4 linked regions of the Homo sapiens genome follow. The protein of the gene in region 4 purifies or fractionates together with the protein of the main gene of each other region. This does not show direct contact. Each region holds a gene or a part of one and is shown on either strand. Other genes may lie near its edges. The genes, in order: ZMYM6, TRAPPC10, MTO1 and CRTAC1.

The links.
Region 1: the proteins of CRTAC1 (region 4) and ZMYM6 purify together in Homo sapiens (affinity purification with mass spectrometry; 2 studies listed by BioGRID and IntAct, with this or other methods). This does not show direct contact.
Region 2: the proteins of CRTAC1 (region 4) and TRAPPC10 purify together in Homo sapiens (affinity purification with mass spectrometry; 2 studies listed by BioGRID and IntAct, with this or other methods). This does not show direct contact.
Region 3: the proteins of CRTAC1 (region 4) and MTO1 purify together in Homo sapiens (affinity purification with mass spectrometry; 2 studies listed by BioGRID and IntAct, with this or other methods). This does not show direct contact.

What each region holds. Positions count from the first base shown.
Region 1 is NC_000001.11:34,986,479-34,994,228, forward strand, and holds part of ZMYM6 (zinc finger MYM-type protein 6), read right to left. Parts: intron 5,910-7,750; coding exon 5,756-5,909; intron 2,458-5,755; coding exon 626-2,457; 3' UTR 1-625. UniProt on the Homo sapiens protein: Plays a role in the regulation of cell morphology and cytoskeletal organization.
Region 2 is NC_000021.9:44,098,992-44,106,741, forward strand, and holds the end of TRAPPC10 (trafficking protein particle complex subunit 10), read left to right. Parts: exon of another isoform or gene 1-88; intron 89-105; coding exon of another isoform or gene 106-185; exon of another isoform or gene 186-1,075; intron 1,076-3,786; coding exon 3,787-3,981; intron 3,982-4,301; coding exon 4,302-4,540; 3' UTR 4,541-7,561; downstream 7,562-7,750. UniProt on the Homo sapiens protein: Specific subunit of the TRAPP (transport protein particle) II complex, a highly conserved vesicle tethering complex that functions in late Golgi trafficking as a membrane tether.
Region 3 is NC_000006.12:73,471,418-73,479,167, reverse strand, and holds part of MTO1 (5-taurinomethyluridine-[tRNA] synthase subunit MTO1, mitochondrial), read right to left. Parts: intron 5,804-7,750; coding exon 5,514-5,803; intron 1-5,513. UniProt on the Homo sapiens protein: Component of the GTPBP3-MTO1 complex that catalyzes the 5-taurinomethyluridine (taum(5)U) modification at the 34th wobble position (U34) of mitochondrial tRNAs (mt-tRNAs), which plays a role in mt-tRNA decoding and mitochondrial translation.
Region 4 is NC_000010.11:98,027,439-98,035,606, reverse strand, and holds the start of CRTAC1 (cartilage acidic protein 1 isoform A precursor), read left to right. Parts: upstream 1-4,985; 5' UTR 4,986-5,134; coding exon 5,135-5,158; intron 5,159-8,168.

The sequences.
Region 1 (7,750 bases), on a different chromosome or scaffold from region 4:
GGCAGGTGGATCACTTGAGGTCAGGAGATAGAGACCAGCCTGACCAATATGGTGAAACCCCGTCTCTACTAAAAAAAATACAATAGACGGGCATGGTGGCACATGCCTGTAACCCCAGCTACTTGGAAGGCTGAGGCAGGAGAATTGTTTGAACCTAGGAGGCAGAGGTTCCAGTGAGCCAAGATCACGCCATTGCACTCCAGCCTGGGCAACAAGAGCAAAACTCCATCTCAAAAAAAAGATCTATCTTTTCCACCTACTCACAACCTTGCAGGGGTAAGTAGCTGGTTGGCTAGAAGACTGAAATGTTCCACTTGCTTCTAAAGGCCAAGCTGTTTCAACATCCAGGTTGTGCTGTTACATTATAAACTGGGCTTCTCATTACCTGCAGTCTTTGTCACTAGTCCAAATTTAATGAAATAACTAAATTTTCTACCCTAGATTATAATTATACATAATTATTTATAACAATCATAATTATTAAATTCCTCAACAAAAAGGGAAAAATTATTAAAACATTTAATCACTGAAAACACAAATCCACATTAGGAAATTATCTTTTAGGATACTTATACAAAACTTAACACAGGATTATTGACTTCACTGTTAAGCAATGTGCATATTGCTACTCTTTCTCCTTCACTAATTTTTCTATCCTTGGAATTAAAGATGTGACTGCAAGTCTTAGGGCAGGGCCAGAACCCAACAGATTTTTTTGTTTTGACTCAGTCAAAGCTGAAAAGGCAGCATCACATAAATAAACAGTTGAAAAGGGTAATAAAAATTTCATTGCCCTTTCATGGAGTTCTGGGTAACTTGTCTTTGCATTTATCCAAAACTGAGTTACAGACACTGATTTAAATAGTGCTTGTAATCCTAAATCTGAAGATAGCTCTGTTAGCTTTTCTTCTTCGAAGTCGGTGAGATTATTATTTTGGTGATTCATAAAAGGGTGAATTATCCACAAATTTCCTGAACGCAAGTCTTGTTCTGGTGGAAAACAGTCACTGAACACTTGAGAAAGTCCTTCCAGGTGCTCAAAAATAATCCTTGTGATGTCTGTCATATTTAAGCCTGATGAATTTGAGAATTCAGAAAATGAAGGGAACATGTCATAATCATTCTCTTGTGTGCGCTTCAACCACATTTTTAACTTTCTCTTAAATACATCAATTTTATTACACAAATTGAAGAAAGTAGTCAAAGTTCCTTGGAGACTTAAATTTAATTCATTTATAAGTGAAAATATATCTGATAAGTAGGCCAGCTTTCCAACCCATTCCTCATCATGAAAATACTTGGCCAAATCTGAATGCTTTTGACTTAAAAATATTTCAATCTCATGTCGTAATTCAAATAATCTTTTTAACATTCTCCCTCTTGATATCCAACGTACTTCAGCATGAAGCGGTAAACTCACATGCTCAGATCCCATCTCTTCACACAAAATTGTTAACATACGTGAATTTAATGCATTGCTCTTTATAAAACTTAAAATTTGTGCTGACTGCAAAAGAATTTTATGTAAACATGGAGACAACTTTTCTGCCACTAAACGTTCACGGTGAATAAAACAATGTGTAAATGCCGCTGTATTCATGGCAACTTCTTGAATTTTTGCTTTTAAACCAGAATACCTGCCAGTCATGCTTGCAGCCCCATCGGTACAGAGACCAACACAATGTTTCCAATTCAGAGATTTACTATCAATATATTTATTTATTAGTTCAAATATTTCAAAGCCAGTTATTTGAGTAGGCATTTCAATGCAAAATAATAATTCTTCTTTTACATCACGACAATCATAATCAATGAAACGAATATAGCACAAAAGAAGTGTGATATTTGAGATTTCTGATGACTCATCTATCTGAAGGGCAAACCACTTTGACTCTCTGACCTTTTGAATCAGCTGGTCTTCAATGTCTGCAGATAGTTCATCAATCCTGTGTTGAATTGTAACATTAGAAAGTGGAATAGTTTTCATTTTGTCTCCAGCACTTGAACCCAAAACTTCTGAACACATTTCTACTAAATATGGTTTAATTAATTCTTCAGCAATGGAGAATGGCTTCTTGCTTGCAGCAGTTTGGAAAGCAATTAAATAAGAAGCTTTCACAAGTGACTTTTCAACTAGTAAACACTTTTTTAAAGAACTATTTTGACATTCCATTTCTAAAGATTTTTGTTCAAAAAAATCTACTGGTTTGTTTTCTAATTCTGAATGTTTTGTCTTCAAATGATGAGAAAGATTTGCTGGCTTCATGTTTTCACTGGATAAGATCTCTCCACAAATGACACACTGTGGCCTTGGTGAACTTTCTTTTGATCCAGGACAGATAATAAAACCAACTTTTAAATATTCTGTATCATAAGTCTGGAAAAAACCTAATCTTTTTTTCTTTGAAGGTGGAGAATCAAGTTCTGCATCATTTTTTTCATTAGGCATAGGTAAATCTGAATGAAATATTTGAATCACTGTTATTTTCAAGAACAAATAAGCAATGTTCTTTATGTATCTCCCCACATATTTAAAATTCATATTTTGTTACTATTTCTATTTATCAAAAGAATGCACTGGTAAAAGTTTAAGCACAAGTCATAATACTTCCAATGATGCTACTGAAAACTGAATTTCTCCTTTGCCCAAAGCTTGATCACTAGGTATAATAAAACTGTAGGATGTGGTACATGTACAAGTAATCCCAAGCACCCAATAGGTTATTGAAATTAGGGCTGAAGACCATGATACACATCAAATTAACAATAAACTTTTTGGCTGAGCAGGGTGGCTCACACCTATAATCCCAGTGCTTTGGGACACCAAGGTGGGTGGGTCACTTGAGCCCTGGAGTTAGAGACCAGCCCGGGCAACATGGCGAAACTCCATCTCTACATTAAAAAAAAAAAAAGAAGAAGAAAAAAAATTGGCTGGATGCAATGGCACACACCTATAGTCCCAGCTACTTGGGTAGCTAAAGCAAGAGGATTGCCTGAGCCCAGGAGGTTGAGCCTGCAGAGAGCCATGATCACACCACTGCACTCTTGAGACTACGTCTCAAAAAAAAACAAAAAGAATAAATTTTTTATTGGTGAGTGACACTGGTGTCAAAAAATTTTTTTAAAGAAAAAGAAAAAAAAGGCCAGGCATGGGGCTCACACCTGTAATCCCAGCACTTTGGGAGGCCAAGGCGGGCAGATCACCTGAGGTCAGGAGTTCGAGACCAGCCAGGCCAACGTGGTGAAACCCCGTCTCTACTAAAAACACAAAATTAGCCAGGCATGGTGGTACATGCCTATAATCTCAGCTACTTGAGAGGCTGAGGCAGGAGAATCGCTTGAACCCGGGAGGCGGAGGTTGCAATGTGCCGAGATCATGTCATTGCACTCCGGCCTGGGAGACAAGAGTGAAACTCCATCTCAAAAAAAAGAAAGAAAAGGAAGAAAAAGAGACAGAAAAATAATGTTTTACTTTCAAACAATCCAGAAAAAAAAAGAAAATAAATATTGCAAAAAGTTAACATTTCATTAATCTGGATGAAGAGTATACTAGTATTGACTGTACTGTATATTCAACCTTTCTGAATTTTGATACTCAGTGTCAGTGAGGTTGTAGAGAAATGGATCCTCCTGAACACTGCTGGTTGGAGCATACATTGATGTAACTTTTCAGGAGGGCAATTTAGGCAACAGGTATCAAAATACTTAAGAATAGATGATAGGCCGGCGCGGTGGCTCACGCTTGTAATCCCAGCACTTTGGGAGGCTGAGGCGGGCACATCATGAGGTCACGAGTTTGAGACCAGCGTTGCCAACACTGTGAAATCCCGTCTCTACTAAAAATACAAAAGAAAATTAGCTGGGCATGGTGGCAGGTGCCTGTAATCCCAGCTACTCAGGAGGCTGAGGTAGGAGAATCGCTTGAACCTGGCAGGTGGAGGTTGCAGTGAGCCGAGATCGCGCCACTACACTCTAGCCTGGGTGACAGAGATAGACTCTGTCTCAAAAACAAAAACAAACAAAAAAAAAGATGATAGTCTTTGAATCAACACTTCCACTGATTAGGATTTATCCTAAGGACATAATTAGGCAAGTGGACAAAGATCCATTAACATAGCTTAACCCAACATTGCTTATAATACAAATATCTAAATTTCCAATCTTAACGGAGTTGGTTATATTATATACACTGAAATCTATGTTAAGAATCTCATACCCAGGTAACAAATCTGCACATGTACCCCCGAATAAAATAAAATAAACATAATAAAATAAAAATTGGAAAAAAATAATCTCAATGTATATTTAAATTTATATTGTTGTGGAATAATGTTTCCAATGCAATGTCAAATGAAAAAGTAATTTCGATTGTTAGAAAACATTCGAGATTTATTCTTTTAAAAGAGACGGAGTTTCACTCTTGTTGCCCAGGTTGGAGCACAATGGCGCGATCTCAGCTCACCGCAACCTCTACCTCCCAGGTTCAAGCGATTCTCCTTCCTCAGCCTCCTGAGTGGCTGGGATTACAGTCCTGTGCCACCATGCCCAGCTAATTTTGTATTTTTAGTAGAGATGGGGTTTCACCATGTTGGTCAGGCTGGTCTCAAACTCCTGACCTCAGGTGATCCGCCCATGTTGGCTTGCCAAAGTGCTGGGATTATAGGCATGAGCCACCACGTCTGACCAACAATTCAATATTTAATCTAGAACTCAAAACATAAGCACACACACACACACAAACATACACACACACATACACACATATAGATGCCCACAGATCCTTTAGTACTCTCCATGTGTGAACGTGTATATAATATAAATTCAGGTACAAATAATATATTGTTTTAATAGGAATATAAAATAAATTTCCTGAGGAAGGAAAACAGGATTCTGCTTGACTTCTACCAAAATAAAGGTACCCTACATAAAAACTTACTACTTGTTGACAGACTAAGCTTTTAAATATAGTGTATTCTATGAAGTAAAATTATTATTAAAAACAAAAATCAGGCCAGGGGCGGTGGCTCATGCCTGTAATCCCAGCACTTTGGGAGGCCGAGGCAGGCAGATCACCTGAGGTCAGGAGTTCAAAACCAGCCTGGTCAAAGTGATGAAACCCCGTCTCTACTAAAAATACAAAAATTAGCCGGGCATGGTGGCAGGCACCTGTAATCCCAGCTGCTCAGGAGGCTGAGACAGGAGAATCGCTTGAACCCAGGAGGCAGAGGTTATAGGGAGCCAAGATCACGCTATTGCACTCCAGCCTGGGCAACAAGAGTGAAACTCCATCTCAAAAAAAACAAACAAACAAACAAAAAAAAACCCAGTGCTTTAGGCACAGTAGACTATTAAAGCAATTGAAAATCTAAGGGTAGTGGGATTAAAAGTAATACTTCACAACTTTTTCAAGTAAAGCTCAAACAATTTTCATCGTCACCAATACCTCAGATAAATTAATTGTACTGTTAGCAACTGACAACTGAATTCGCAGTATTTAAAAAAAAAAACAGGTTAAATCACTAATGCTTTTAACTAAAACTGTATGTTAGTAATTATAATAGCTTGTTATGATAGCTGGTTATTAGTGTTAATAATTATGAAAGCAATAAATTAAGTATTCAAAGCATGTGATCCAAGAAAAGGAATGTTTTCACATTTAAGACTCTGTCAATTATTTTCTTTTCCTTTCTTAAAAAACAAAAACAAACAAGCCAGAAAACAAGCTTTGTACATGGGAACGCACAAGGATACATACCTGTCTGACATTCTTTGTGCTGTGTATGTGGTTTGCAAGAAGTGGCCTTGGTCTGTGTGACGGGTTTGCATGATATGCCTTTGTTCTTTAAAAGCCTGGAAGGCTGGGAAGATTGGGAAGATGGAAATTTCATAGCATCTTCCTGTGTACTTTCCTAGTTAAAAGCAAATTCAGAAACCAAAGAAAGATTTTTTTTAGTACCTTATCACTGACTATAATTGCTATCAATTGAAAGTTCATATACATCAAGAGAAATATAATTCCTCTGAAAGAGTGGTTGCAATAAAAAAGTCACCTTGGAAAATACACACAGATTCCTACTTCTCCCAATCAGTATTAGTTTAATTTACTGATTTTAAAAAACATTTATAAATATAAATATAAAAATATATTTATAAACTATAAATATAAAAATATATTTATAAACTATAAATATAAAAATATATTTGTAAATATAAAAATAAAAATATACTTATAAACTATAAAAATAAAAATATACTTATAAACTATAAATATAAAAATATACTTATAAACTATAAATATAAAAATATACTTATAAACTATAAATATAAAAATATACTTATAAACTATAAATATAAAAATATACTTATAAACTATAAATATAAAAATATATTTATAAACTATAAATATAAAAATTATACATATAATATATATTTTTAAAATAAGTATGATCAAAACAATGAAAACAATTGTTAATCTTGCTGATTAGGACAACTGGCTACTCAGAAAAATTAGATCCAACCTCAGACCATACACAAAAATATATTCCACATCAATTAAAGATCTCAGGGAAAAAAAAAGAACTAAAGTCACTAGAGAACTTTCAAATAAACAGATCACAAAGTATTCTTTTCTTTTTTCTTTTTTTTTTTTTTGAGACGGAGTCTCACTCTGTCACTCAGGCTGGAGTACAGTGACACAATCTCAGCTCACTGCAACCTTCGCCTCCCAGGTTCAAGCAGTTCTTGTGCCTCAGCCTCCTGAGTAGCTGGGACCACAGGCGTGCGCCACCACGCCTGGCTAATTTTTTATATTTTTAGTAGAGATGGTGTTTCACCATGTTGGCCAGGCTGGTCTCAAACTCCTGACCTCGTGATCCGCCCACCTCGGCCTCCCAAAGTGCTGGGATTACAGGCGTGAGCCACCACTCCCAGCTGGGATCACAAAGTATTCTTAAATAAAACACAAAAGAGTAAATCAAAGTAGAAAAGACTGATACATTTGACTACCTCAAAATTTAAAACTGCTCAGATGATCCAGGATAATCTCCCTATTTTAAGGTTAGCTGATTAGGAACCCTAATGCCACTTGCTACCTTAATTCACCTTTGCCATGTAATGTAACATATTCACAGATTCTGTGGACAAGGACATGGACATCTTTGGGGGGCTACTATTCTGCCTATCATAATAAAGCTCTTAAAAAGTAAATTAATTTTTTTTTTTTTGAGACGGAGTCTCGCTCTGTCACCCAGGCTGGAATGCAGTGGCATGATCTCAGCTCACTGCAACCTCTGCCTCCTGGATTCATGCCATTCTCCTGCCTCAGCCTCCTGAGTAGCTGGGACTACAAGCACCCGCCACCACGCCCGGCTAATTTTTTTTGCATTTTTAGTAGAGATGGGATTTCACCGTGTTAGCCAGGATGGTCTCAATCTCCTGACCTCGTGATCCACCCACCTTGGCCTCCCAAAGTGCTGGGACTACAGGCGTAAGCCACCGTGCCCGGCCAAAAAGTAAAGTTTTTTAATCCAAAAAAAAAAAAAACTTCTGTAAACAAAGGTCTTTATAAAACAAAGTTATAGGGCAAACAACAGAGTGGAGGAATGTACTTAAAACATGTGTATTCACTCAATATTTATTTCCTGAATGTTTACTACAAGCCAGGCACTGTTCTAAGCCGTGGAGATACCGCAGAAAACAAGACAAAGTTCTGCTCATATGAGCCTTACATTCTAGAGGAAGACACAAAAAA
Region 2 (7,750 bases), on a different chromosome or scaffold from region 4:
CGCTCTTGCAAGTGAAAAGGGCGTTCTGTGAAAACAGCGGCTATTTCAGCTCGCAGCACCGAGCGCTCCCCGTGTGCTTTCCCTGAGCCAGCTGTCATTCTGCAGCAGAGACCCAGAGAATGTCAAGAACACAAGCACTCAAGAATGGAAATAACTCAAACGTCCTTCAGCTCGAGAGCGGTTAAACTGGCACATCTGATTCCTCCTCAGCAGTGAAACAGAAGGGACTGTTGACACACGCAGTGCTGTGGTTGGATCTCAAGGGCATTATACTAAGAGAAAAACGCCAGTCCTATAAGGAGGTGTACTGTGTGATTCCATTTCTAAATGACATCCTCAAAATGCCAGCCTCAGAAGGAGAGCGGGTCAGTGTTCCACGGAGCAGTGGGAGGCAGCAGGAGGCCGTCCTCTGTGGTAATGGAGAGTTCTGGGCCAGGGCCGCTGTGGTTGTTACACGAATCTACACATGTGACAAATGCCATAGAATTAGACCCAAAGAATGCCTGCGAAAGCTGCTGAAATCCAGTGGGGTCTGCAGCCTGGTTCACTCTGTAGTGAAATCCAGTGGGGTCTGCAGCCTGGTTCTATCTGTATTGAAATCCAGTGGGGTCTGCAGCCTGGTCCACTCTGTAGTGAAATCCAGTGTGGTCTGCAGCCTGGTTCTATCTGTATTGAAATCCAGTGGGGTCTGCAGCCTGGTCCACTCTGTAGTGAAATCCAGTGGGGTCTGCAGCCTGGTTCTAGCTGTATTGAAATCCAGTGGGGTCTGCAGCCTGGTCCACTCTGTAGTGAAATCCAGTGGGGTCTGCAGCCTGGTTCTATCTGTATTGAAATCCAGTGGGGTCTGCAGCCTGGTTCACTCTGTAGTGAAATCCAGTGGGGTCTGCAGCCTGGGTCACTGTATGGTACCAGTGTCAGCTTCCTGTGTTACACGAGATGGCACAGTTGGGTGAAGCTGGTGATGAAGGTATGTGACCCCTCTACTACTTTTACAACTTCTTGTGAGTCTATAAACATTTCACAATTAAAAAAAAGTCTACTCAGGAGCTGAATTTAATAAAATGAGCACTTTTGACTGCTTTGTGAAGCGTGGCATTTTTTTTTTTGTTTTTTTGCTGTGAGTTCATGGTAGTAAAGAACATGAGTGACATGACTGCGCAGTCTGGCCCGAGTTCATGCCATTGTGGTTGCCCCAGCAGCGCGAGGTCAGCAGCGTAGAAAGGCAGCAGTGTGAAAGCTATGAGCTTGCGGGTGCCCTGAGAGCCACACTCTGAGAACTGTCACTCCTTTGCCTTCCTCCTGACACTCCTAGGGCCTCTGCATGTCCTGTAGTAGCTCCTGTCCTCAAAGGTCCCCCATCCCCAACTACAGGATGTCCACCTCCCTGAGCCCTTCTCTGCTGCTCGTGGCCTTCTGGTCACTCACTCCCCCTGGGCGGTTGCTCGGTATCCTCATGATGGGAAGCTGTGACCTCTTTACCAGGTCTACTGCTACTGGATGGCAAGGATCCTGTCTTGCTTACTTTCATATCTCCAGGGCTAGTCCCAGTGAATGATCACTTAAGTGTTTGAATTGCATTGAATTACATGATGGTTGTGTTTTAATAATTAATGTTAATAATAACACCTGCCATATATTAAGACACTACCATGTCCCAGGAGTGGTACTAAGTGCTTTACATACAAGGGGTCTTCAAAAAAATCATGGAAGATACGTTATGAAAAAACTATGCATGGATTTCAACACTTTTTGCACCAAAATAAGCTCCTACTCACTGAGCAGGATCTAGTTTGAGGCACTAAGAAGGATAAGACATCAGTTTTAAAAGAGCCCCTATCAGAGCAACATGAATTCTGCTAAAATTAAATCAAGAACCAACATTGGCCGGGTGCAGTGGCTCACGCCTGTAATCCCAGCACTTTGGGGGGCTGAGGCAGGCGGATCACCTGAGGTCAGGAGTTCAAGATCAGCCTGGCTAATATGGCGAAACCCCATCTCTACTAAGAATACAAAAATTAGCTGGGCGTGGTGGCAGGCGCCTATAAGCCCAGCTACTTGGGAGGCTGAGGCAGGAGAATTGCCTGAACCCAGGAGGCGGAGGTTGCAGTGAGCCAAAATTGCGCCACTGCACTCCAGCCTGGGCAACGAGCAAAACTCCGCCTCAACAACAACAACAACAACAAAACAACCAACATCAAATTTATGGTGAAGCTTGGGTGGAAGAATGGTGAAATCATTGATGCTTTATGAAAAGTTTATGAAATTCTTTGGACAGTGCCCCAAAGAATTAGTAGTTTGCAAATGGATATCTTGTTTTAAGAAGGGACGAGATGATGCTGAAGATTAAGGCCATAGCAAGCAGACCATCCACATCCATTTTCAAGGAAAAAATTCACCTTGTTCATGCCCTAATTGGAGGGAACTGACAACAGCAGAAATGACAGCCAACACCGCAGACATCTGAACTGGTTCAGCTTATGCAATTACGCCTGAAGGGTGAGCAAGCGTTCCACTCAGTGGGTGCCAAAACCCTAGTACCCAGGTCCGTGGCCGACCAGAGCAGAGCTTCCCATGGAAACTTCAAACACACGGGATCAAGATCCTGAAGCATTTACTCAAAGAACCATAACAGGAGATGCAGTGTGGCCTTCCCAGTACCATCCTGAAGACAAAGCAGACACGGCAATGGCTACCAAGAGGTGGGGTGGCCCCACCAAAGCAGAAGCAGACTGGTCAAGAGCAGAGGCCACAGCAACAGGTTTTTGGGATACTCAAGGCATTTTGCTTGTTGACTTTCTGGAGAGTCAAAGGACAGCAGCGTCTGTGTATTATGAGATTGTTTTGAGGAAGATAGCAAGAGCTTTGGTAGAAAAACCCCTGGGGAAGCTTCACCAGAGAGTCCTCCTCCACCACGACAAAGCTCCTGCTCATTCCTCTAACAAGCCCAACTTCGTGAGGGTTTCTATGGGAAATCATGAGGCATCCACCTTGTGGACCTGATTCGGCTCCTTCTGACTGATTTTGGTTTCCTGATCTTAAGAAGTCTTTAAAAGGCACCCATTTTTATTCAGCTAATAATGTAGAGAAAGACTGCGTTGACATGGCTAAATTCTCAGGCCTCCCAGTTCTTCAGGGATGGACTAAATGGCATCGTAAGCAATGGCATCATTGCTTACAAACATGTCTTGACCTTGGTGGGGCTTATGTTGAGAAATAAAGCTTATATTTTCTGTTTTCATCTTTGGATTCCATTTTTGCATGAACTTTTTGTAGTTCCCTCATACGTATTCTCTTTCCATCCTTAAAAAGCAGCTCTGTGAGGCTGGTGGTGGTCTCAGCACTATACAGCGGTCATTGAGCCTGGAGGCCTTGGGGTGCTCTTCTGAGTGGCAGAGTTGGCTTCAGACCCAGTGGTCTTGGATACTGCCACTTACCAGACAGAACCCATTAACTGCCAAAGTCACCATACTGTGGAAGATGACACAAAAATTTGAAAACAAAATTAAATCATTTATTAACCTCACAGGAAAAATGCAGTTTTCTGTACACGTCCAGCATAATTCATTCTAATCCAGAACTAATTGAAATTGGACTCAATGAAATAGGGGTTGCCACCGTGAAAGTGCATGGCTTTATCTTCAGGCGCAGCTACAAGGCACTGGGCTCTGTGTCCGCAGTGTTTTGTCAGACAGCGTTGGGTGAGAGGATTGGGTAACGACGGCCGTGACTCTCGCCTGAGTACTGGAAGGCCCGTCCTGGATGACACATCGCTTCCTCTCGTTTCAGTTGTCGACAACAGTAGCAACTGGGCAGTGTGTGGGAAAAGCTGCGGTGTCATCTCCATGCCAGTGGCTGCTCGGGCCACTCACAGGGTCCACATGGAAGTGATGCCGCTCTTCGCCGGGTATCTCCCCCTGCCCGACGTCAGGCTGTTCAAGTACCTCCCCCATCATTCTGCACACTCCTCCCAACTGGACGCTGGTAAGGACTTTGGAAGAAAAAGTTTACCTTCAGTATTTGAGCAGGTGAGCACTTTGTGCGAGAGGTGATAAACTTATGACTGAGCAGGTTGGAGAACTAGCGGCGTGTTTTCAGTGCCGGTAGAAACTGGTACTAGAAGCCTCATCCGCTGTTAGAATCTTAGGCACCTGCTCTGAAAGCCAAGCCTCTGTGCACAGAGTGCTCTGTAAAGGGGCAGCCTCGGGTGGCATTCTGCACGTTCAGCCTGGCTCCGTGTGGCTTTGCCCGTCCCCAGGTGAGTGTCGGCGCAGCTTGGGTCTAACTTCCTGTGTGTTTTGCAGACAGCTGGATAGAAAACGACAGCCTGTCAGTAGACAAGCACGGGGACGACCAGCCGGACAGCAGCAGCCTCAAGAGCAGGGGCAGCGTGCATTCGGCCTGCAGCAGCGAGCACAAAGGCCTACCCATGCCCCGGCTGCAGGCACTGCCGGCCGGCCAGGTCTTCAACTCCAGCTCGGGCACACAAGTCCTGGTCATCCCCAGCCAAGATGACCACGTCCTGGAAGTCAGTGTAACATGACAACGCCAGGGTGAACACACGCCACTTCCCAGCTAGGAGTGCACTTTATGGGACTGTGACTGGACTCTTCCGTTCTGGCTCCAGCCAGACCTTCAGTGGTCCTGCCTGGCCGTGGGGACATCAGAGAGTGTCATCACGCAGCTGGCCAGCTGAGTTCTGTTGTTGTTTTCATGCCGCCTGTGATCTCAGATTCCTGCTTTTCTCACCCCGTCCCCATGCTGGTGTCCGACGCCGCTTACTCAGAGCCCTGGCCTCCCTCCCCCTACCTCACACGCTGCTCATGAAAGTTTCCACCCACGCTGTCTCCACGGAACAGCCTCCGTCTGCTGGCTCTTCGTGGAAGGCCATTTGTCTTTCAGGTAGACACTCAGCAGCCCTCACGGTCTTAGTGACGTGTGTGCCTTTCTGGTCACACAGCTGCCCAGTTTCCTGATCGGGGTGGATTTGTGTCCCCTAAGGGGTAAAACAGCCGTTTACCGCAGATCCTCTCATTGTGCTTTTCTAGAATAACACCCTTCTAGGGGAGGCGGGTGGGGGAGGGAGGGATCATAACCCCTTCTGTGCCTTGGGATGCCGGAGCTGGGGGACCTGGAGGCCCATCAGCCGGAGCCACGTGAAAGGTACTGAAGAAAGCTGAGACCCGGCTGTGAGGAGCGCCTCAGCGGTGAGGTGGTTTAGGGATAAATGTTTCTGGAACCCTGTGGTCCCCCATAATGTTGATAGAATATCATATGCACTGGGAGTTAAATATATTTAATTTAATGATCATTATATATGTGGGGGTTAATATGTTGTTTTTCTGTCCCTTTAAAGTCTTTACATGTAATTGTAGCTGTATAATCGTTATTTTTCTTTTGCATCTTAAGTCTTAGAAATTAAGATATTCCATCGTGAGGATGAGAGAGGTCCTCAGTGTGTTTTTGGTCTGGTTGTAGGGAAGGACTCAAGTCCTGGAATGTCCTCCACTGGTCTACTGAGTTGCAGTCACACTGTTCCAATGGATTATTTGCTTTCGGTTGTAAATTTAATTGTACATATGGTTGATTTATTATTTTTAAAAATACAGACTAACTGATGTAATGTTTATGTATAAGTTGCACCAAAAATCAAGGACAAAAATAAGTGTGTTTGTTTTTACAGGTGTGAAAGTCACAGCTTGTAAATAAGTGTTGTATGTATTAAACCTTTTCCAGTTCTCCAAAGCGATGTATTTTTGTACACTTGAAATAGAGTACTCTTAATTTACTGGGCAAATGTGCTTGGAATTGAACTTGACAAGATTAGCTCAAGCAGATAGAGTCGGGTCCAGCAGTGGGTGGCCCTCGTGTGAATCCCCGTGGATGTGCAAGTTGTGGAGAGAAGGAGCACCGGGTTCCTGCCCAGCACTGTGCTTGCGGGAGGCGGTGGGGCATGGGAGGAAGGAGGCACAGACCGGGGAAATATGACAGCCGTCATTTCCAGTATTCTCTGTGTTGTCTTTTAGCTCATTCAATAAATAAAGGTGGTGTGATTTTTTTTTCCTCCTGTCTTTTTCATTTGTAGAAACTGGAGACGTGTAAAGAAGATAAATAATTGTGTAATTAAACTTTCCAGAAATTTATCTTCCTCATGTGCAGTTTAACAAACTTGGTCAAACTAGTTAGCAAATTAGAACTTCAGAATCTAATGATAGTTTAGGGTTTCTAAAATAAGGTTTTTTATTGTAAAAATTGACGATTGCCCTGCATTTCTACCAAGTCCTGTGAATAAAGAGATGGGAGATTTGATTCCGTCAGAAGAGACTGTAATCCGTGTCGTCAGCCTGGGAGCCTTCCCCAGTGTAATGTAGCTTTCTCTCTTACCTTCTGGAAGAGGGAATGTTTCATTTATTACTGTTTGATTTTCTTGTATCTGGTTCTACTCCCAGGATGAAATTATCCAACTACATATATATTTAGAGGAAGAAAGTGAAGGGGAAATTTAAAATGTTTACGGCGCTTAATTGCCTGGAAATGAAATGAAATCAAATTTATCAGTTTTTTTCCCCCTAATTACCCAAAAGATCTTTTGCAAACTATGTTACATGAATGCTTCTGCCTCTTTAAGACAAAGAAGAATGTCACCCAAAATTGTCATTTTTTTCTTAATGTTCATCATAAAAGTCCTAAAAGAGTAACTGTAATTGGATGTTTATTGTTTTTATCTAAAGTAAGGTGTATGTGTTTGAGACAAGCTGGTTTTGTTGATAAAGAGATGTTAAATAATTGTGAAGCCAGATATGCAATGTGTATCTGAAAAGCAAGGAATTTGCAGCCGTTTTACAAATATCTGTGGAACATGTAAATACTGTCAAATGGAAAATAAAATAAGTTATAATTTTTGTGAATTTCATGGGATGTCCTATGATTGGAAAAATTATAACTCTTCTGATTCTAATGTGGAAATTGTTGTATTTAATCTGAAAATGACTTTACCTACAACAGTTCCATTGTCAGCACAGCCTAGGAAGGTCAGATCCTGTATTAATTACTCTTAGTGGAGATGCCAGATATCCCATACAGAATTAGCAGAGAAAATACACACAGGCTTCTATTCAAATTTTCTTTAGTGCTTAAAATTAAGTTTTAAAATGAAATCAGACACTGCAGGTTTGTATATAAAATGAAAAGCTATACTACTTTTTACAAAAGGGCAAACTGGGCTGATGTAAATGTTTTACTTTCAACTGTGTTCTTTAAAATAAATCCTACCTGGTTTTTAAATTTTATTTTTCATGAAAATGCTCCTTTCTCTACATTTATTCATCCTATATACATCAGGCTGTAAGACCCCCCCCAGTCATCATTAATACAATGTGTTGGGATTCTGTGACTGGAAAAGGTGACAAGTTGGTGACTTTGACACTGCAGGTATTCCATTTTCATGGTTTACTATGAAAAGTCATTTTTCATATTATGTAATATATTGTTAGATTAAAACCATTGTATTAAGACTTTAAAATGTAAGCATTGTAATTCTGAAAATACACATTTTAAGAAGAAACTATTTTGCACTGGATCTTTTGCTGCGACATGGTGTGACAACAGTATGTAATGTGAAGATTTTATTGTTTTATCTCCCTAGTCCTTGTTCCTGACTCTTGGGCATAGATTATTTGCCTTTTGGGAAACATTCGGATTATTTTTTTTTTTTTTTTTTTTTTTTTCTCTGAGACAGTCATGCTCTGTTGCC
Region 3 (7,750 bases), on a different chromosome or scaffold from region 4:
CACCTGTAATATCAACACTTTGGGAGGCCAAGGCAGGTGGAGCACGAGGTCAGAAGTTTGAGACCAGCCTGGCCAACATGGTGAAATCCTGTCTCTACTAAAAAGACAAAAATTAGCTGGGCATGGTGGCGGGTGCCTGTAATCCCAGCTACTCGGGAGGCTGAGGCATGAGAATCACTTGAACCTGGGAGGCGGAGGTTGCAGTGAGCCGAGATTGCACCATTGCACTCCAGCCTGGATGACAGGGCGAGATTCCGTCTCAAAAAAAAAAAAAAGAAAAAAAAAAAGTGTTTTTGTGCCCACCCAGGGACTCCTTGCTTTGTTTGGGCTGGGCGCCGTGGCTCACGCCTGTAATCCCAGCACTTTGGGAGGCCAAGGTGTGTGGATCACCTGAGGTCAGGAGTTTGAGAACAGCCTGGTCAACATGGTAAAACTCTGTCTCTACTAAAAAAATCCAAAAAATTAGCCAGGCATGGTGGCAGGTGCCTGTAATCCCAGCTACTTGGGAGGCTCAGGCAGGAGAATCGCTTGAACCCAGGGGGTGGAGGTTGCAGTGGGCCAAGCTTGCGCCATTACCATTGCACTCTAGCCTGGGCAAGACTCTGTCTCAAAAAAGAAGAAAGGGTTATCATAATTTGCATACTACCAAAGCAAATATATAAAAGTATCTTGCTCAAAGTAACAGAATATTTGAAGCCATACATCAGGATAACACTCACCAGAAACTAGGACCATCAATTATTTTTTTTTTGTACAGGCAGGGTCTCATTATGTTGCCCAGGCTGGTCTTGAACTCCTAGGCTTAAGTGATCCTCCTACCTTGGCCTCCCAAAGTGCTGGTATTACAGGTGAGAGTCACTGTGCCTGGCCAATTCTTCATCCTCAATCTTAAACACATACAATATACTTTTTTTTTTTTTTTTGAGACAGAGTCTTGCTCTGTCGCCAGGCTGAAGTGCAGTGGCATCATCTCTGCTCACTGCAACCTCTGCCTCCCGGGTTCAAGCAATTCTGCCTCAGCCTCCCAAGTAGCTGGGACTACAGGGGCATGCCACCATGCCCAGCTAATTTTTGTATTTTTAGTAGAGACGGGGTTTCACCATGTTGGCCAGGATGGTCTCAATCTTTTGACCTTGTGATCCACCTGCCTTGGCCTCCCAAAGTGCTGGGATTACAGGTGTGAGCCACCATGCCACGCCACATTTTTTTAAAACTCGAGAGATAGGTAAAAGTGGCCTCTACACTTCAAAAATGTCGGCACCATTAAAGATTGACAAACTGTTCCAGATAAAAGACTTTAAAGAGAAATGACAATTAAACGCAATGCATGACCCTTGATTGGGAATAAAAAGGTTGTTTTGGGCTAGGCTTGGTGGCTCATACTTGTAATCCCAGCACTTTTGGGGCCCAAGGCAGGCAGATCCCTTCAGTCCATGAGTTTGAGACCAGCCTGGGTGACACTGCAAAAACTCATCTCTACAAAAAATACAAAAAGTAGCCAGCCATGGTGGTGAGCACCTGTGGTCGCAGCTACTTGGGAGGCTGAGGTAAAAGGATCATCCAAGCCTGGGAGGCGGAGGTTACAGTGAGCTGAGATTGCACCACTGCACTCCAGCCTGGGCAACACAGTGAGATCCTATCTCAAAAAAAAAAAAAAAGCTGCTTTGGACAATATTTACCAATTAGCAAAATGTGACTACGGACTTTATGTTAGATAATAGCACTGTATCAGTGTTAAATTCTCCGAATTTCTTTTTTTTTTTTTTTTTTTTTTGAGACATAGTCTTGCTGTTGCCCAGGCTGCAGTGCAGTGGCACAATCTCAGCTCACTGCAACCTCCCCATCCCTGGTTCAAGCGATTCTCATGCCTCAGCCTCCTGAGTAGCTGGGATTACAGGCGCATGCCACCATGCCCAGCTAATTTTTGTATTTTTAGTAGAGGTGAGGTTTCACCATATTGGCCAAGCTGGTCTTGAACTCCTGACCTCAAGTGATCCACCTGCCTTGGCCTCCCAAAGTGCTAGGATTATAGGCATGAGCCACTGCGCCTGGACTCTTTTCTGTCTTTAAAAAAATTTTTTGGTCAGGCGCAGTGGCTCATGCCTGTAATCCTAACACTTGGGAGGCCAAGGCGGGCAGATCATTTAAGAACAGCAGTTCAAAACCAGCCTGCCCAACATGGTGAAACCCTGTCTCCACTAAAACTACAAAAATTAGTCAGGCGTGTTGGCGGGTGCCTGTAATCCCGGCTACTGAGGAGGCTGAGGCATGAGAACTGACTGAACTCAGAAGGCGAGATTGCAGTAAGCCGAGATTGCACCACTGCACTCCAGCCTGGGGGATAGTGTGAGGCTCCGTCTCAAAAAAAAAAAAAAAATTTAAATTTTATTGTCCCTGCATCGTACTCTGAATTTCATCATTGCATAAGGGTTATATAAAAGGATGTCTCTGTGCTTAGTTGAGATATAGGCTTAAGGTAAGAGCTCATCATCTCTGCAATTTACTCCCAAATATTCCAGAAAAAAAAGAATAAGAATAAATGTGTATATTACCATCTTACACAGTAAATATGGACATAAATTGATATATCTATAGCGATAAATATGGTAAAATATTAACAGTGAGTGACGTTCAATGGTTTATAGGAGTTTGTTGTGAAAAAACTCTTACATTGAGAAAAGTCTTACAACTTTTTCTCGATGTTGCTTACTTTTTTTTGTTTTTCTCCGTCTTTTTAAAATAAAATTATATGCGTTGAGGGTTAACTTTCTTTTTTTTTTTTTTTTTTTGAGATGGAGTCTTGCTGTTGCCCAGGCTGGAGGCTGGAGTGCAGTGGCACAATCACAGCTAACTGCAACCTCTGCCTCCCAGGTTCGAGCAATTTTCCTGCCTCAGCCTCCCGAGTAGCTGGGATTACAGGCATGAGCCACCATGCCTGGCTAATTTTTTTATTTTTTTTTTATTTTTAGTAGGGATGGAGTTTCACCATGTTGGCCAGACTGGTCTTGAACTCCTGACCTCAAGTGATCCACCTGCCTCAGCCTCCCAAACTGTTGGGATTACAGGCATGAGCCACCACGCCCAGCTGAGGGTTAACTTTCAATAGATCGCAGCGAGGAAGTTGCTCTGCTATGTCTGAAATCCCACCCCAGAAGCAGGTCATCTAAGAATGGTTCAGTGTCGGGTTCTCCATAAAAATGCATTGTGTAATGGGCAAGGGGGCGGCTGCCTTTCCAGCAGCACCACCTGATATCGTTTCAAAAGCTTAATTTAGGCCGGGCATGGTGGCTTACGCCTGTAATCCCAGCATTTTGGGAGGCTGAAGGTGGATCACCTGAGGTCAAGAGTTTGAGACCAGTTGGGTGCGATGGCTCACACCTGTAATCCCAACACTTTGGGAGGCCGAGGCGGGCGGATCACCTGAGGTCGGGAGCTCGTGACCAGCCTGACCAACATGGAGAAACCCCATCTACTAAAAATACAAAATTAGCCAGGTGTGGTGGCACATGCCTGTAATCCCAGCTACTTAAGAGACTGAGGCGGGAGAATTGCTCGAACCCGTGAGGTGGATGTTGCAGTGAGCCGAGATTGTGCTGTTGCGTTCCAGCCTGGGCAACAAGAGTGAAATGCCATCTCAAAGAAAAAAAAAAAAAAAGAGTTCAAGACCAGCCTGATCAACATGGTGAAACCCTGTCTCTACTAAAAATGCAAAAACAAATTAGCTGGGCATGGCGGCGGGCACCTGTAATCCCAGCTACTAGGGAGGCTGAGGCAGGAGAATTGCTTGAACCCAGGGGGCGGAGGCTGCAGTGAGCTGAGATCGTGCCATTGCACCACAGGTTGGGCAACAAGACTGAATCTCCATCTCAAAAAGCAAAACAAAACAAAACAAAAAACGCCTATTTGACCAGGTGCGGTCGCTCATGCCTGTAATCCCAGCACTTTGAGAGGCTGAGGTGGGCGGATGGCTTGAGCTCAGGAGTACGAGACCAGCCTGGGCAATATGGCGAGACCCTGTCTCTATTAAAAATAATAATAAATGAAAAAATTTTTTAAAATAAAAGCTTAATTTACAAAATATGTAAGGTTATAAAAGTAATGAAATTTAAGATTTGCCAGGCACGGTGGCTCACGCCTGTAATGCTAGCACTTTGGGAGGCTGAGGAGGGTGGATTACCTAAGGTAAGGAGTTTGAAACCAGCCCGGCCAACATGGCAAAACACCGTCTCTATTAAAAATACAAAAATTAGCCAGTGTGGCGGCAGGAGCCTGTAATCCCAGCTACTCAGGAGGCTGAGGCAGGAGAATTGCTTGAACCTGGGAGGCGGAGGTTGCAGTAAGCCGAGATTGCGCCATTGCACTCCAGCCTGGGCAACAATGGCGAAACTCCGTCTCAAAAAAAGAAAAAAAAAAAAGTCGGGTGCAGTGGCTCACATCTGTAATCCCAGCACCAGCACTTTGGGAGGTTGAGGCAGGCGGATCACCTAAGGTCAGGAGTTCAAAACCAGCCTGGCCAACATGGTGAAACCCCGTCTCTACAAAACTATAAAAATTAGCCAGGCATGATGGCGGGTGCTTGCAATCCCAGCTACTAGGGAGGCTGAGGTGGGAGAATCGCTTGAACCCAGGATGCGGAAGTTGCAGTGCACCAAGATTTCACCATTGCGCTCCAGCAGGGCGACAGACTGAGACTGTCTCAAAAAAACAAAAAAAAGAAATTTACGATTTATGGGGAAATACCCAATTAGCCAAGTTAGCTAATCCCTTTTAGAGATTACTTCTTTAGGCTGAGTGCAGTGGCTGACGCCTATAATCCCAGCACTTTGAGAGGCTGAAATGGGTGGATCACGAGGTCAGGAGTTCGAGACCAGCCTGGCCAATATGGTGAAACACTGTCTCTATTAAAAATATAAAAATTAGCCGGGTGTGGTGGCGCGTGCCTGTATACTCGGGAGGCTGAGGCAGAAGAACTGCTTGAACCCAGGAGGCAGACGTTGCAGTGAGCTGAGATCGTGCCACTGCTCTCCAGTCTGGGTGACAGAGCAAGTCTCCACCACAAAAAAAAAAAAGGATAACTTCTTTGGCTGGGTTCGGTGGTTTACACCTGCAATCCCAGCACTTTGGGAGGCCAAGGGGGGTGGATCCTTTGAGCCCAGGAGTTCGAGACCAGCCTGGGCAACATAGTGAAACCCCATTTCTCAAAAAAATTTTAAAAAGCCAGGCACAATGGCTCATGCCTATGGTCTCAGCTACTCAAGGGGGTTGAGGTGGGAGGATCACTTGAGCCCAGGAGGTCAAGGCTGTAGTGACCCATAATTGTACCACTGCACTCCAGCCTGGGTGACAAGGTGAGACCTTATCTCAAAAAAAAAAAAAAAAAATCATTTCTTTGCACTATAAGCAATAGTGCTATAAAGTGAACTGCTGCCAAAAAAAAAAAAAAAAAGTTACAGTACTTCCTGCTGTGAATAGCCAATACCAGCTGTAAGCCAGGTTTTCGTAAAGTATCTTACCTTAATCCATACTGTCTCATTGGTAAAGCTGAATGGTATGGATGGATTGTCCGGTATATGCTTGTTTAGAATACTGAAATTAATGGACTCTTTGGCAATTCGGGGTGGAGTCCCAGTCTTCAACCTTCCCACCACAAACCCTAACTTCTCCAGTGTCTGAGCCAATCCTATAGAAGGCTGATCCCCTAAACGTCCTGCTGGATGCGTCTCCAATCCAATTACAATCATGCCTCTCAGAAATGTCCCAGTAGTCAGAATCACACTCTCTGCATATACTGTGCTTCCATCCACTAAATAACAAGAAAAAAGAATAAAGTCATTATCTATGTATCTATGTATTTATGTATCTATGTATCTATCTATCTATCTATCTATCTGAGATGAAGTCTCACTCTATCGCCAGGCTGGAGGGCAGTGGTGCAATGTCCGCTCACTGCAACCTCCGCCTCCCGGGTTCAAGCAATTCTCCTGCCTCAGCCTCCCGAGTAGCTGAGATTACAGGCATGCGCCACCACGCTCAGCTAGTTTTATATTTTTAGTAGAGATGGGGTTTCTCCATGTTGGTCAGGCTGGTCTCGAATTCCCGACCTCAGGTGATCCACCCACCTCTGCCTCCCAAAGCGCTGGGATTACTTACAGGCGTGAGCCACCGCGCCCGGCCTAAAGTCATTTTTTAAATTGTTACCATGGATCAAAATGGAATGTGACTATTTTACATTACAACTACAGAAAAACTATCAGTCTTTAAAAACTTGAGAATCTTTTTTAATATTTTTGTTTTTTCAAGACTTATCGACATATAACAGACATATAAAAAACTGTATATATTTAGAGTATGCAACATGGTGTTTTGATACAAGTATACCTTCTGTGATGATACCCATAATCAAGCTAATTAATATAACCATCACCTCACATAGTTACACGTTTTGTGTGGTGAGAACACTTATGATCTACTCCCTTAGCAAATTTCAAGTATATCATACATTATTATTAACTGCAGTTACCATACTGCTCACTAGATTGCTAGAACTTATTCAACTTACAGCTGAAAATGTATAACCTTTGAGCAGTATCTTCCCATTTCCCCTACCCCAGACAAAGAATTTTAAATGAGTAAGAAGGCTAATATGTTATCAATCTCAATCTAAGCAATCTAGGAGAGAGAATACAATGTGTTATCACCAATTCACATGTACCTAAAATCATATCAGCACTAAAAAGTTAGTCTCAATTAATTTAAAAAATTAATTAATTTTAGACTTCAGGATAAATATGGCATACAACCTCTCATTTCTTCTCCCTTCTAAAACTCAAAGAAAATTAAATAGGGGAATAAAAAAGGTATAAAACCAAAAGGACAAGTAATGAAAAAGAACCAGTCAGAAGATGAGAAATTTCAATGTATTTTTGAAAGATAGAAAGTGTTTGGAAGAATGGTAACTCATCTAGCAGAGGGGAGATAGCTATAACTTAAGTATTAATATCTGAAGAGAAGATATATCAATGAGAATGAACTAATTTGCCCTGCAAAGGCTCAGAAATTAGAGAACTGAGAATAAGAACTGAGGAGGAATGTAGAAATGAAACTTGGAACAGAAAATGAAAGAAACAGCTGAAATTTACACATTAAGGTTTTGTCCTCAGATAGCTCTACCTTACAGTAAAATGGAGGTTTATTCTTCAGGTAATGGGGACTTTTTGTTTAATGGGTACAGAATTTTAATTTGGGATGATGAAAAAGTTCAAGAGACCGTTGGTGGTGATGGGTGCACAACACTGTCAATGTACTTAATAGCACTGAATTGTACACTTAAAAATGGTTAAAATGGTACATTTTATGGTTTGTATATTTTACCACAAAAAAATTGTTATTGTTGGGCCTATAAAATATGGACAGGATCACAAAATAGCATTTAAAGATATTAAATTAAATCGGCCAGGCTCAGTGGCTCATGACTATAATATGAACACTTTGAGAGACTGGGGCAGGAAGATCACTGGAGCCCTGGGGTTCAAGACCAGTCCTGGCAACATAGTGAGACCCCCATCTCTACAAAAAAAAATAATAAATTAGCCAGGGGTGGTGACACATGCCTGTGGTCCCAGCTACACAGGAGGCTGAGGCAGGAAGATCACTTGGGTCCAGGTGGTCGAGGCTACAGCGAGCTGTGATCATGCCACTGCACTCCAGCCTAAGAAAGAGGGAGAGAACTTGTCTCAAAAATAAAAAAATA
Region 4 (8,168 bases):
CCATCTCCCTCCCTGCATCACATTCTTAACCAGCCCCTCAGATTGCAGAGCCACCCCCACGACAGTGTGGGAAAACCCCGTAGCTCACTGGACACATAGGCAGGTAAGTTCCTGGAACCCAAGCCATTTTGGCACAGGTTAACATGATAAGCAGACACCTGCTTGCATCGTTACCTCCAGGCTTCCCCCTGCCCCACAGCCTCGAAAGTTTCTAACCAGACTTCCCCAGGATTCCATCATGTCCTCCTTCTTCCAGCATCCCTTTCCTGGGGCTGCTCTGCCTGCAGAGTTTCCCTGCAGCATGCGCTCACAGCTCAAGGTCTTCTGAACAAACTCTCTGGCCATCTGGAAGACTCCTTTCTGCATCTGTGATGGCTCTGGCTCTGGCCCTGACTGAACCATCCCCCAGGGTTTGTGGCTTCTCTAAAAGAGTTCCTGTCCAACTTTACCCCTAACCTACCTCCCCTTGAAAGTCCATCCTATGCATCTGCCTCTTACAAGCCACAAGTGCATCTGAAACCCAACGGCCATGTGATAAATGTGTACTCCTTGGGAAAAAGGGACGACCCCTCCATACGACTTGGTTTGAGAAGGGGTTATTTCCTCATACCCCCTTTAGCTCCTCATTTCTTTCACAGTTTGTGGTTTCCCATTTTCAACTATTGCTGTTTTTCCACCCCCTTACAAAAAGATTCATTTCTTTTGAGACAACCAAGCCTAAAATACACAATCCCTTATCTACAATTCCAAATCCCCAAATCTCTGAAAGTCAAAAGGATTTTTGTTTTGCAAGTTTGATGCCAAGACTCATCTGGTAGCAAAATCTGACCTAAACTGATGTGAAGTTACTTTATCCTCACACCTGCTTAGTGTAAACTTCATATATTTCATTGCAGAAATATTAATGTGTCTGATTTCAATATGCTGCTCAAAGCTTCACTGAGAATGTTTATGTATGGTGCCTTTCTGAATTCTAAAATGCCTCTGGCCTCAAGGGCTTCAGATAAGGGTGTGAGGAACTGTACCAGCCTCTCTGTTCTCCTGTGACAGAACTCTTGGGACAGAAGCATCTCTAAGATCTGGTGTCTTGACTTCTCACCCGGAGAGAGAGAAGATAGCCAAGTAATCTTCTAATGTAGAGAGAGAATTAACAAAGTCATTTGTCAATGAAAGGACATGGGGTCTGGAGGTTGTCTTCAGTGTTTCCTACAGTTTTTGTCCTGTCCTTAACTTGTTGCATGACTGTTAGCAACTTGCGTAAAGTCCAACCTCTCTGATCCTGGACTTTAGAAGAAAACTAGCTCCTGAGAACTCCTGCTCCAGTGATGTTGATGATGACTAACACACACAATACATCTTGAGTTTTTAGAAAATGAAGTACTGTACAGCTTTAATAGTATTTTTAAGTAAATAGGTTTAATTGGAATAACTCAGCAAATATCTAATGTGTGTTCACTCTGTGCCCAGTTTCATGCTGGGTTCTGTGAGGTAGTCAACTGCAAGGTACAAACTCTGGACTTCAAGGGGCTCATATTCTGATAGGGAGGCCAAGTATCACTGAGTGAAAAAAAGCTAATGTGCATCACAGGTGATAAGATGGTGTAGACCTGCAGGAGAGCTGAAAACTGCTGGCCAGGGCAGTTTTGGAAGGTGGCGCAGGAAGGAAGACTTGGTTTGGGTATGAACAGATGAGAAAACAATTTAAGCACGTTCCCCAGGTAAGAATGAAGAAGTCTGTGGGGGAACACTCTGAAGAAAAAACAACTTCACTGGGGTCAAAGGACTGGAGCCTGAACAAGATGCATGGGGTAAGGGTGTGCTGAAAATGTGTGTATTAGTCAGCTCAGACTGCCATAGCCAATACCACAGACGTGGAGCTTAACCACAGAAGTTAATGTTCTCACAGTTCTGGAGCCTGGAAGTCCCAGATCAAGGTGCTGGCAGGTCTGGTTTCTGCAGAGGCCCTGCTCCTGGCTTGCAGATGGCCTCCTCCTGTTACTCAGGCAGGCTTTCTCCTGAGGATGCACAGAGAGAAATGGGAGATCTCTGGTATCTCTCTCTCTTCTTACGAGGACACTAGTCCTATTGAATTAGGGTCCACCCTTATGATCTCATTTTGCCTTAATTGCCCCTTTAAAGGCCTTATCTCCAAATGCAGTCACACTAAGGGTTAGGGCTTCACTATGTGAATTTGGTCCGGAGAGGCACAATTCAGTCTATAACCGTGTGCATGTGCCTCAAGAAAGCTGTGTTTGGGCAATGTGGGAGGACAAGAGGTCTCTCACGGGATTGGGGGTGGGGAAGGGCTGGAGCTCTGAGCAGACACTGACATGAACTGAGCAAATGGACATCGAGGACATCAGAGAAATGAGAAATTTTCCAACCAGGACTGCCTGGCCCACTGGGCTAAACCCTCACAAGTTCAAGTGCTGAAGCCAGATTGTATTCCCTGGAGCACTTCCTGGCTGGAACATCTCCATCATTTCCTGCATTTTTCTGTCCTTCCCTAGCACCTTTGGTCTGTTGTAACCTTACCTGGCTAGCTGCAGGAAAGTGTGAGATTATTACAGAGTTATTTTGCACAGAGCACCTATTCACATCTGGTTGGCTAATGCTGATAATTACCGTGCTGGTTACTAAATCTGTCGGGTCTGGGTGAGGTGAGGCGCTACAGCTGGGGCTGCTGTGCACAGCTTCACCGGAGAAGAGAGAGGTGAGAACAAAAACCAAGAAAGGTGTGCTCAGATGTTTGGGATTGAGTGAAACTGGTTAATTACCAGTCACTTGCTGTCTCCCTGAGTTGGAGTTTCTGGCTAAGGAATGCTCATAGATCAGACATAATATGACAACCTGCAACTTATTTCCACATTAAGAGGGTGGCGGGGACCAAGATGCAGAGAAAGTGTGGAGACAGTCTCTCAGGTGCCAGAGCCTTGGCCAGATGACTCAGATGCCCTCAGAACAAGGTGGTGGCATGTTCCAGCAGGGTGCAGAGCCAACTGGACTCCTTATGCAGAGAGCTGGGGATCAGATATGGCCTTGGGGGCAGAGTCTATTTGCCGATAGATGAAGGTTCTTAATCAGGGCCCTAGATTAAGTTTTAATGATCCACGAACCCTCCTAAAGTTGCATGTCAACATGTGTGTATGTGAGTGAGCATTTTTATAAGCAACAGATCCATAACATTTATGAGATTCTTGAAAGGTTCTAAAGGGTCTGTGATCCCCAAAAGGAGGGTGATTATAAACTACTGTCCTAGACCCCTGAAGAAACAGGTTGACATTGGACCGAGCCCCAAGAGACTCAGGGTTCCTAATGATCCTGAAAGTATACTCAAGGTGTGTGTGTGTGTGTGTGTGTGTGTGTGTGTGTGTGTGTGTGTAAATGTGTGTGTTTGTATATTTTTCTAGAAAAATGATTCAGTAATTTTTGCCAGATTTTCAAAGGGGCCCACAACCTTACAGGCTTGATGGGGGCTCAAAAAGCCAGAAAGTTTGTCTGTGCCTAGCTATTTCTTTTCAGAGGAAGATCACAGAGACCTGAAAACAGAGCCCAGACTAGGTCCTGGTAGTTCTGCTCAAAATCTGTGGATAACAGGGGCCAGAGGCTGGATGTGTGGCCCTCTATAAAAGAACACATTCAAATCATTCTAAGAGTCAAGGGCCCAGAAGCCAGACTAGTGGGTGATGGTCACAAAAGCGTCAACGGATGGGAAAACAGTCCTAGCTCCTTCCCTCTCCGATGGTGGATTCCCAAGTCTTTCTCTTCTGTGGCCCCTTTACCTGGCTTTCAGAAACCCAAAGACCTCACTCATGGAAGCTCAGAATTCATTCAATAAACACTGAGCGCCTACTATGTGCCAGGCTCTATTCTAGGCGTAAAATAAAGGATTTGCCTTCAGAGTGTGACCCACCAAGGCCAGTTTCCTGCCTGAACAGGGGTATTTTGAGCATTGCTGATCAAGTGTGTTTTTCTGGCGCTTAGCACCCCCATTCCCCTGGTCCAGAGAGGCAGAAACCATCCCCCCACCACCACCAAGGCAGCGGGTTGGGGGCGAGGAGAGGCGGGCAGTACCTGTGATCAAAGCGGTGAGGGAGGCTAGTAGGACGCAGGCGGCAGGAGCGGGTGGGCCAGGCCCGACTCGGCCACTGCTGGGGTAGGGACTAGGTGGGATGGGGTGGGGGCACTGCTGGTGGGGACGGGGTGGGGTAGAAGCGGCGCTGCCCGCAGCCGCCTGGGCCTCTGCGCGCCTGATCTCCGAGCTGCGCTCGCCCGCTCCCCGCCTGCGGGGGCCGTCGCGGAGCCCTGCTCTCCATACTGAGCAGTCCCCGGGAGGTGCTCGGACACGTCCCCAGGCTGGATAAAGATCGGCTCGGCTCTAGCTCCGTAGTCGAAATCTCGCCATCAGCGCGGCTCGCTCGGCCGCTTTGGCCCGGCCCGGCGACGCCAGATCGCTATCCTGGGGGGAAATGGGAAGGCAGTGCAGCCGCTCCCGCCTCCACCCTCGGTCCTGCGCGCAGGGGTGGCCGCGGGGTCCTGGGGCTCGCCGCCCTCCCCTCCCCCTTCGCGTTCCTTCCCTGCGCTGCCTCCCGAGGGACCCTCGCTTCCCTCCGGCCTGGGGCCCCCAGCGCCCAGCCAGGCGCCCTCTCCCCTCCTCGCCAGGCCTCGCTGCCGCCTGAAGGTTACGCGACGCAGTGGCGGGGCGCGGGGGGCGCCCGCCCTCGCCGCCGCCTTCGCCGCCGCCCACCCCAGTGGCCGCCGCGCCGCGCCGGGCCAGCCTGGCTGCCGGCTGCTGCCACCGCAATCCCGGCTCCTAAATCAGCGCGGGGAGGCGCTCCCTCCCCACGCCCGGCTCTCCGGGCTCTCGGGGCCGCGATTGGCCGCGCCGGCGCCCCCCACCCCGGGCCCCCGGCTCCAGCTGCCGCGCCATTGGCTGCGGGCCTCCGCCAGCCTTTACATAAGACCGGGCGCGCTCGAGTGGAGTTGTATAAAGCGAGCGCGCGGCGTCGGGGCGGGAGGCTCGAGGCCAGCCCGGGACCGGGGCTGGGAGCAAGCAGGCGGCGGCGCCGGCGGCAGAGGCGGCAGCGAGCGCCCGCTTCCCACGCCCCTAGGCGGCGGGGCCGAGAGCGGGAGGATGGCTCCGAGCGCTGACCCCGGCGTGAGTATCTGCACCGGTGCCCCCCACCCTAAGGCGGAGAAAGTTTCTCCAGCTCTGCGCGCCCCCCCGGATCCGCCCGCAAGGGTGGCGGGGACGCCGCCCGGGAACCCGGGAAGACTGGGATCGCGAAGGCGGCGGCTTCGCTCCTAACTTGCTGGGAGGCGCTGGACTCGATTGGCGCGCGGAGCCTCCCCCGCGGGCTGGGGGTGAGGCGGCGGCCGGGTTGGAGGTGGCGGAGAGGTGGGAGCTGATGTGTGGGGGCGACAGCCAGCAGCTGGCAGAGAAAGTGTTGGGGGCGCACTGGAGGTCAGCTGTCAGGGGAGGGGGCCTCTGGGGCCTGGAGGGGGCGGAGCGGGTGAGGAGGGATGTGCCGGGCTATCGGGAGAGTCTCCCAGTCAGCCAGGCTGAGACCCGGGCCTGGGAAGCCACTGGCCTCGGCCGAGTGCCTACGCTTCCAGGCTGGGGAAGAGCCCCGCGGGCTGGCTCTTCCTCCCCTGGGAAGCCGAGTTCCCGGGCACAGCGCTGGGTGGCAGAGAGCTCCGGGAGCCAGCCCCGCGCGCGGCGTAGCTGCTAGCCGCCTTATGCTGGACGAGGTGTGGTCTTCCCTTCAGGCTGCCTGAGGCAAGCCGGCTTCAGGCATTCCAGGGGAACCCTGAGTCCTCCTCGACCCCGTGGGGGCACTTGGAGGCTTTGATGGGGCAGCCAGGCCGGGCTTGGGGGCATGCCCAGCAATGCAGCGCGCTTCTTTGCAGTACAGTAGTTGGGAGCCCTGGTTAGTCCCGCTTCTGCAGAAAGCAACTCAAGAATCCAAAGTCATCCCAGCCTGGATGGAAGCCTCCCAGAGTGGCGGGGAAATTCTCCTAGGGTTGAGAGCTGGGGGGGCTTCCTCCAGGAATGACTAATGAATATTGCTGCTGCTGCCGCCGCCGCCGCCGCCGCCGCCGCCGCCGCCGCCGCTGCTGCTGCTGGTGGGTGCACCCAGTGTGGCTTCTGCACATCCCAGGAGATGCTTCCGTTCTCCTGACAGGACACATTCTTGAGTTGCACTTGAGGTGTCTTCTGGGATGGGTGCAGGACTTTCCACGTGAAGCCAAGTGGAAAAGAAGGGAAGAGGGTCCCAGGACAGGGGACAGTTCTATAGTGTTTTCTTGAGTCAGGGGAGAACTCATGTGGGAAGAGATAAGCGATTGACGGAGATTTGGAACCCAGACGACTTGGGGCTGGAGATGTCCAAGACTGAATTAGAGCTCATTGAGAGTCACAGAGTACCTCACCCTCAGCCATGGGGGAGAGGTGGAGGCTGGAAAAGTGGGAACATGGTGGCTGTTCCAGCATGGTTCTTGAGAAAATGTTCTCTCTCTCTCTCTGACTTGGTTAAGAACATCCTTCTGGCAGTAGGTCCTAAAGTCAATTTAAGAGGTAATGAAGGGAGTTGAGGGTCTTGATGATGGCACAGAGGACCACAATTAGAACATTTCCATTTCCGGTGGGTACTAATGGACTCTGGAAAAGGTCGAAACGGTGTGTAGGGAGTCTGGGGAACCTGCTCTGTGGCTGCTCATTTGAGCCTGAATCCTCCACCTTATCCCATCCCTGAATGTAGGTGGATGTTCAAACTCCTAGGGTACCTGCTTCAGCCTGGAGATATTTTATGGGTGCTATCAATCTATATCCCAACCCCCAGCTCCATCGTTGTCTGCTGCAGTCAACATTTTTCTGCTGCATTTCCCAAGACCTTCTCTCCACTGGGGATTTGTGCAGCGAAATACCTGCTTGTTGCTCTTTCTTCCCTTCTCCATCTGGGCTGCACCTGGTGTTCTGAACCCTGGTGTTTATTCCTTGGTACCTTGATGTTTGGTTAAGACGTCCTATGGCTGCGCAGGGGTGCCCCTGTAAATCTGTGGACCAATGGCCTGTGTAATTCTAGGGAGTGCAATAGACTTCTATAGAAAGAATACCACCAACCGGGAAGGCAGTCCTACTAAACAGCTTGTGACAGCCTCTCATGCTCAAGCGCTCCCTTGCTTCCGTGCTGAGGCGGTGGAAGCCTAAAGGTGGAGCAGACTCCTTGGTGTCCAGTAGGGGGCGCCAAAGGTACCTGGCTCAGGACCACTGACTTTCTCACTTCTTGCCCTTTACTGGCTGTAGCAACTTAATGCTTTAAGGCAGCTCAGGCTACAGCCTTCAACCACCACCATCGTACTTGGAATCCTTCTACCACATGCTTCCTGGGCTTCAGGTGGTCCTGTGACCTCGGGTGCTATGGGGCAGGTGCAAGCACAACATTCCAAGGAGACAGAGCTGGTACACAGCCCCACCCTCTCTCGGGGATCATTCCTTTGTGCTTGGTGCCGCTGTGTTCTTTGAACTCTTTAAGGGTTCATGGAGTTCCAGAACATTAGAGCCAGAAGCAAGGAGCCTTGGAGAGCATCTCATCCAACCCCATTCCATCCCAACACTCACATGCACATTTAATTTACAGATGAGAAAACTGAAGCTGGATAAAGCCAAGGTCACATGGCTATTTGGTGGAAGACATGGAACTAGGCCCTAGGATTCCCACTGCTCGATTCAGAGCTGTTTCCACTCCAGCGGCCTGCTTCCTCTTCACTATAAAGATGGACATACTTTCTCTATACAGTAGGCACTCATAGTTATTGACTGACCAGGCTTTGGTAAATTAATACATCCCATACAGTTGGGGAGATTCTATTTTGAATCTGTTTTTCAGAGTGAGGAGGTGAGGAGAAAATACAGTTCTTGTCATGGACATACACAGGTCATAGAAATTCCTAATTATTCTTTCCCTGCCTCTACAATCTCGTCTCATTATTCCAAGTGGTGTTTTAAGCAAAAGCCATGCAAGTCCAGGTTTCAGTCTGTGCATTTAGGAGTCAGAAGTGCCGAGTCCCTCACTGTGGTCTTGGAACCCAGGTCTGGAGCGCCAAGGAATGTTGGCGTGGGGTCTCTCTGCTTGCAGTCACACCACTGCTGGTGAGACCTCCCAGAT